Linked DNA regions of Homo sapiens. The protein of the gene in region 1 interacts with the protein of each later gene in a pairwise test. Each region holds a gene or a part of one and is shown on either strand. Other genes may lie near its edges.

The links. The genes of interacting proteins can lie anywhere in the genome.
Region 2: the proteins of CLCN7 (region 1) and AQP7 interact in a two-hybrid assay, tested with the Homo sapiens proteins (one large-scale study listed by BioGRID).

Annotation. Positions count from the first base shown.
Region 1 is NC_000016.10:1,451,029-1,454,528, forward strand, and holds part of CLCN7 (H(+)/Cl(-) exchange transporter 7), read right to left. Parts: intron 3,438-3,500; coding exon 3,383-3,437; intron 2,867-3,382; coding exon 2,806-2,866; intron 1,866-2,805; coding exon 1,727-1,865; intron 689-1,726; coding exon 595-688; intron 1-594. UniProt on the Homo sapiens protein: Slowly voltage-gated channel mediating the exchange of chloride ions against protons. Functions as antiporter and contributes to the acidification of the lysosome lumen and may be involved in maintaining lysosomal pH.
Region 2 is NC_000009.12:33,385,569-33,389,068, reverse strand, and holds part of AQP7 (aquaporin-7), read left to right. Parts: intron 1-1,976; coding exon 1,977-2,100; intron 2,101-2,527; coding exon 2,528-2,665; intron 2,666-2,873; coding exon 2,874-2,992; intron 2,993-3,202; coding exon 3,203-3,420; coding exon of another isoform or gene 3,421-3,451; exon of another isoform or gene 3,452-3,500. UniProt on the Homo sapiens protein: Aquaglyceroporins form homotetrameric transmembrane channels, with each monomer independently mediating glycerol and water transport across the plasma membrane along their osmotic gradient. Could also be permeable to urea.

The sequences.
Region 1 (3,500 bases):
CCTGGGGTTCCTTTCCTGGAGCAGGCAGCACTGTACTGCGTGCAGGGCGGGTGAGACCGCCAGGGACACAACTGCAGAGGTGAAAGGCCGGCACTCCAAGGTCGCGGTCTGCGCTTCCGTGAAACACTTGTGGTCGAGCGAGGCCAGGCCGTGGTCTTGGTGTGGGAGTCACCAGGCTGGGTTTTCTTTTGTTTTTTGAGAGAGGGTCTCGCTGTGTCACCCAGGCTGGTATGCAGTGATGTAATCACAGCTCATTGTGGCCTCAACCTTCTGGGCTCAAGCAATCCTCCCGGCCCAGCCTCCCAAGTACCTGGGACTGTGGGTGTACTACCGTAGCCAGATAATGTTGCTTTTTTGCAAAGACAGAGTCTCGCTAAGTTGCCCAGGCTGGTCTTAACCTCCTAGGCTCAAGTGATCCTCCTGCCTTGGTCTCTCCAAGTGCTGGGATTACAGGAGTGAGTCCCTGCTATGATCCATGCTAGGGATGACCCCCCAGCCCAGGGCTGCAACCTCAGCCCACAGGGGACACTCAGCCAGAAGGCATCACCCAGGCCCTGATCCCAGGGCCTGCCCAGCGGCACTGCCCACACACACCTGGCGGGTCGTGGAAGAGGCTCACCACGCTCTTCTCCGGGGTGTTGAAGAAGGCCGCAGCCATGGAGTTGTACTCGCCATCTGCACAAAAGAGCTGTGGGGTCGGGAGAGAGCACACGTTGGGAGGGGAGATGAGCTGGTGGGCTGCAGGCACAAACCTGGTGTCGCCGTGAGAGGCCGTGTACCCTGTGCCTGGCCAGCATCAGGCGCGAAACCACACGATCCTGCCATTGGGTCAGGGCCACGGTCACAGAGGGCAAGGAGGACACACAAGGCCCAAGCCATGGTCACGGAGGGAAAGGAGGACACACACGGCCTAGGCCCAGCAGGGGGCCGTGTCTAGCCCTGGGGGGTGGGTTAGCAGGACCATGGGCTGAGACGCTGTCCATCCCTGGTGCCGGGGAAGGTGGGCCCAGGCGCTCACATGAGCTCCTAGAAGAGGCTGTTGGCGCCCCGGTGCCACAGGCCCAGAGCCTCCTGGGCTCCAGCAGCACAGGGGGTGTTATCCACGGGGCTGGAGCAGAGTGTAGCAAGGCTGGTCAACCCCATGGCCCCGGGCCTCCCACGTCTCTAACGGTTCACACCTGACCCGTCCCATCCTGCCCACTCCCGCCGTGGCACCCACTGGTCTGCTGGGCCTCTAGGCTCTCCCTGTTCTGGATGTTTCATGTTAATGGGGCTACGTCGCGTGACCTCACGTGTGGTTCCTCTGAGCGTAGTGCTTTCCAGGGCAACCGTGTCACAGTGCAGATGGACGCACGGACGGCGGTGAGCCGTGAGCGCCAGGCACAGGTCCAGTTGTGGACGGAGGTTTGCATTTCTCCTGGGTCCACATCTATGGTGCCCCCATAGGGCGCCTGAGGCTCGCCCCGTCAGGCTGCCATTCTGGGAAGAGGACTGGGGGGAGCCTCTGGCCCCCATACCACCGCCCATTCCCCTGGCACCTCAGCAGACACCTGGCCTCCTCTGAGATCTGGGTGGACAGGACTAACCCTCTTTGAGACACGCCAGCCCATGCGCTTCTGGAACTCGGCGGGGTGGGCAGCCCTCCTCCCGTAGCCTAAGCGAGCCTCCTGGAGGCCGCCCTGTGGCTGCCCTGCCTGCTGGACCCCGCCCGGGCCCAGCCTCCCACCTGCAGCGGGTAGGACATGGAGCCCCCCTGCAGGGGCTGGCAATCCCGCGACGAGTAGATCAGCACGAAGGCAACTGTGGCCGTGACGGCGGCCACCAGCACGGCCTCAATCACCTGCAGGCAGGGCCGGTGGATGTACCTGGAACCAAGAATCAGGCTGCATGGCAGGCAGGACGGCAGCGCGGCCCCTCCGCAGGCCCCATGGCAACTCGAGTCCCTGATGGAGGACACTGGGCCCGTGGTGCTTTTTGTTTGTTTGTTTTTGTTTTTGAGACGGAGTTTTGCTCTTGTTGCCCAGGCTGGAGTGCAGTGCTGCGATCTTGGCTCACTGCAACCTCCACCTCCCAGGTTCAAGCAATTGTCTTGCCTCAGCCTCCCGAGTAGCTGGGATTACAGGCGCCCGGCTCTACATCTGGCTAATTTTTTTTTGAATTTTTTAGTAGAGACGGGGTTTCTCCATGTTGGTCAAGCTGGTCTAGAACTCCCGACCTCAGGTGATCCACCCGCCTCGGCCTCCCAAAGTGCTGGGATTATAGTCGTGAGGCACCGCGCCCGGCCAGGCCTGTGTTTAATCATCAATCAGGCACCCAAATGTCCTGGGGTCGTCCTCTTCCCTGGGGTAAAGACTCCTCGGCAGCAACTTCTCCAGATGTGTGGGAAGTGGCGCTACCCGTGCCCCGGCTGTACCCGACAGTATTGAAATCAGCACAGACCAAGAAGGAAGAAGCCGGGGGGCCCCGGTGTCCCAGGACAGCTGCGGTTGCTACCAGGCAGAGCCAGGCGGTGAAGGTTGGGCATGCCTCGCCCAGGCCCGATCCCACGCAGGGCCTCACTTCCTACCCAGGGGCCGTCCTCCAGGAGCCCTCGCACTCCTAGCCTTGGGCTAGTCCGTCACCCTCCAGGCCCCGGGACACATCTCTGACCAGCTCCACCGGGGAAACCATCAGGAAGGACGCTGCATACACAGCCTTTCTTTCGGCTGTGGCCTAGGAGTGTAAACCCCATTCCACCACGTCCGCTTTCAAAGGGCCTGTGTGGCCACGCCTGCCAACGCGATATGCAATGCGGTTTCTCCTCACCTGATTCGAAACATGGTCAGCCAGTAGTTCAAGGCATTGAACACTGCTCCAAGCACACCGCCTGCGAACAGGGGAAAGGCCAGTCAGCGACACCGGAGGAAAAGTGCGGGCCTCCGCCCGCCGGCTCCCAGATGGCAGGAGAAGCTGGAGGGTTTGCAGAGGGAAGGGGACGGCAGGGGGCTAGGGGGTCCTGGTAAGATGCTTCCTCCACATCATCACACCCTGAGGGCTGGGGGAGCTGTTTCTCAAAGGCTCTGCCTTCCTTCCAGGGCAAAGGTGTCCAGCAGAGCAATAAATACTGGTGGGAGCAATTCTATCTCTTACAGGAAATCCCATCCATCCCTGCAGCCCTGTGGTTTTTGCCAACAGAGATAAACAACGGGAAGCCACAGAAGCGAAGCTTTGGGCTCCCCACTCCCCACGTGTACTGCCCATGGAAGAATCTGGAGGCCCCCGGGTGGCCCTGGGATGAGGGCAGGCTCCAGGGAGCCACAGCCTCCAGTCCTCGTCTCTATGGCCACGTCACAGCTGAGCCAGGCCCGCAGGCCGTCCCTGCGGTGCTGGGAGAAGCCCTTACCCACCACGCCCATGGCGATGAAGACCGGGATCTCGTGGATCGTGTAGGCCATTTTCTGTGCAGAGAGAGGGAGAAGGCAGAGGATGTGAGGGAAAAGGCCCACAGCTCCTTTCTGCTG
Region 2 (3,500 bases), on another chromosome or scaffold:
GCGACAGAGCAAGACTCTGTCTCAAAAAAAAAAAAAAAAAAAAAATTGGCTGGGTGCCGAGGCACATGCCCATAGTCCCAACTACTTGGGAGGCTGAGGTGGGAGGATCACTTGGGCCCAGGAGATGGAGGCTGCAATGAGCCCTGATCATGGCACTGCACTCCAGCCTGGGTGATAGAGCAAAACCCTGTCTCAAACATCAAACAAACAAACAAAACAGTGGCACAAGAAAGCAAGGCATGCATGGAGCAGCACAGTTGTTTGGTTTGAGGCCATCTGGCACAGGTAACTGCCTGGATTTAATCCTGGCTCACCAGGTACAGGCTGTGTGACCTTGGACAAGCCATTCAAGTTCTCTAAGCTTCAGATTACCCTCTGTCAAGTGGGGGAGAATAATAGTGCTTAAGTCATAAGATTGGTGTTAAGGGTTAAAGGAGGTGATCAGTATAACTCGCTGGCATGTAGGCAGTGCTCAATAAATGGTTATTATTATTTAGTAGTAATACTATTGCTGAATACAAAGAGTATTGGGGCAGATATGAAACAGGCAGAAAGGATGAAATTATGCAGGGTCTTCAATGGTGGCCTACTGAGTTTGGACTTTATCCTAGAAGTGGAGGAGAGCCAGTGAGTGAGTCTGGGGAAGACGCGATGGGGTTTTTGTTAGGAAGATCACTCTGGCTGCAAGGAGGAGGCTGGGTGAGGTTTGGGGAGAATGTAAGCAGAGCTGATTGGATGCTGGGGAGGATGGCGAGGAAGCTCTCATTTGCAACATCTGTTTCTGGCTCGGCCAACGGGGATGGGGAACATAGAGTGAGGAGCAGGTGTGCTGTGAGATGGCGAACCTTCAACAGAGCCTGAGACGCCCGCGGAACACCAGGAGAGTTCCAGTGGGGATTTGCAAATAGGGATCCGGCTCCCCCGCGGAGATGACGGGAATTTTAGCGCATCAGGCATAGCTGAGACTGTCTACGTGGTAAAACCATGCCTGAAAAGACCTTTGGAAAATCAGGAGGTTGCTGGAGCCCTTGGAGAGAGCTTTGGTGTCTGTGACATGTGGAAGTGGAAGCCAGATTGAGGAGGGGGTGCGAGGGAAGGGGTGAAGCAGCTGGCCAGCGTGTTCTCTCCTGCGGCCTGACTGAAGCAGGGAGGAGGCAACCAGGAACCCACAGCTGGAGAAGGACGCTGGGCAGGGGTGGGACAGTTTGCTGGGAAGGATGAGACTCCAGTGTGTGGGAGCCGATCAGTGGGAGGATGGAAGGTATGGGGGAGACGGAGGCCTCTGCAGAGGGAGAGGATAGCACAGGAGCCAGGGCTGAAGGGAACAGTGGCTCTGGACTGAGGCTAATGGGCCTGAAGGTAGGCCCCTTCCCCTGTGAAGGCGTCATTATCTGAGGAGCCGTGAGGGATGGGCAAGAAGCAGCAGCTTGGGAATGCCGCCTGAGGTCAGTGGAAATGAAGCTGAGGGCAAGACAGTTAGGGCCCCACTGTTCCAGCATTGTGGGAATTGCGGTGGAGTGTGTGTGTGTGTGTTTGTGCAGGGAGGGGTTCCTGGCAGAGTCAGGCACGGATGGATTTGGAGGTCCCTTGAAGAAACTTCCTTCAGGCCAGCCTGAAGTGTGAGAGACTCTGAGGGGGTGCAATGCATGCCAGCCATCCCCTCCTCGCAGCCCTGCCTCACCCCAAAACTTCAGGTGGGCCTGGGGCTGAGGTGCTTGGATGTTTGTCGTAAGAGCTTCTAACTCTGCCGCTCCACCCGGCTCTCAGTGGCTCAGGTCTGAGAGGCCTCAGCAGGGGCAAGGAGAGGAGGCAGTGAGGAGGGAAGGCTCTGGAGGAAGAGGGCGTGGCAGCGGGTCTTCGAGGCAATGCCAGGGAGGCCCAGGGCATGGGGGTGAGGAGCTAGAACTGAGCTCTGAGCCCTCCTCTGAGGTTGGGGCTTCTGGGCAGGCAGCCCCCTTAGAGGCCCTCCCTTGTAGGTATTCGGCCTTGGTTCCGTGGCCCATATGGTTCTAAATAAAAAATATGGGAGCTACCTTGGTGTCAACTTGGGTTTTGGCTTCGGAGTCACCATGGGAGTGCACGTGGCAGGCCGCATCTCTGGTGAGTGAGCCCAGGCCCTGCCGGACCGGGCAAGACCAGGTGTCCCCAACAGGCTCTTTCCTGCCCGCCTCAGCCAGCTTCTTTGCCAGCACAGCCAGTGCCTCAGCCTGGCCACCGGGCGGGAGGAAGTCTCCTCTGAACCCCGTGCCTATGACGTGTTTGCCCCAGATTCTTCCTGGGCCCCCCGACCTACCATTTTCACTGGCTGGGTCATCTTAGGCAAGCCATCGCCTCTGTGTTCCTCAGTTTCCTTGAGAGTGAAACGAAGATGGTGGCCCCTGCCTCACGGGGTGGTTGTGAGGGCTCAAGGAGAGAGCTCTGTCACGGAGCATGCTGTCATACACACTAGCCATCGTTGTTCTCATACTGTTTGTCACTGTTGTTTGTTCTGCTCTCACTCCCTGACACACTTGCCTGCTGCCCGCAGGAGCCCACATGAACGCAGCTGTGACCTTTGCTAACTGTGCGCTGGGCCGCGTGCCCTGGAGGAAGTTTCCGGTCTATGTGCTGGGGCAGTTCCTGGGCTCCTTCCTGGCGGCTGCCACCATCTACAGTCTCTTCTACAGTGAGTATCCTGCCCGGGTGTCCGCCTCTGGCCTCAGCCGCCTCCTATGAAATATGGGCAGATTGGACCTCAGTGTCCTGATTTGTAAAAAATAGCTGGGAGAAAAAAGCCTTGGAGATCCCCCACCCTCTAACCTATAACCTCATTTCTGGGACCCCGGTGGGGCTTAGTTGGGAGCAGGTTCGCATGACAGTCTGTGTCTCCGCAGCGGCCATTCTCCACTTTTCGGGTGGACAGCTGATGGTGACCGGTCCCGTCGCTACAGCTGGCATTTTTGCCACCTACCTTCCTGATCACATGACATTGTGGCGGGGCTTCCTGAATGAGGTCAGTGGTCGAGGATGAGTATCCCTCCCCCTGCCCTCCACCCCTCAGGACGGAGCCAGCAGGGAGTCCCTCCGGATAGACAGGACAAGAACTCTGGATGGAGACTGTACCGAGACGTGTCTCTGCTGGTGGGCTTGGGTCTGGGGCACTGCCGAGGTCCTGTGGCTTGGGGAGGGGCCCAGGTGAGCTGCCACAGCATCTGCTCCTCAGGCGTGGCTGACCGGGATGCTCCAGCTGTGTCTCTTCGCCATCACGGACCAGGAGAACAACCCAGCACTGCCAGGAACAGAGGCGCTGGTGATAGGCATCCTCGTGGTCATCATCGGGGTGTCCCTTGGCATGAACACAGGATATGCCATCAACCCGTCCCGGGACCTGCCCCCCCGCATCTTCACCTTCATTGCTGGTTGGGGCAAACAGGTCTTCAGGTACTGCCCCTGCCCAGGCCCATTCCTTTGAGTTTTTCTGTGGGTCCCCTGTGTGTTGAGGGGTGGGGGGTGATGTGAGG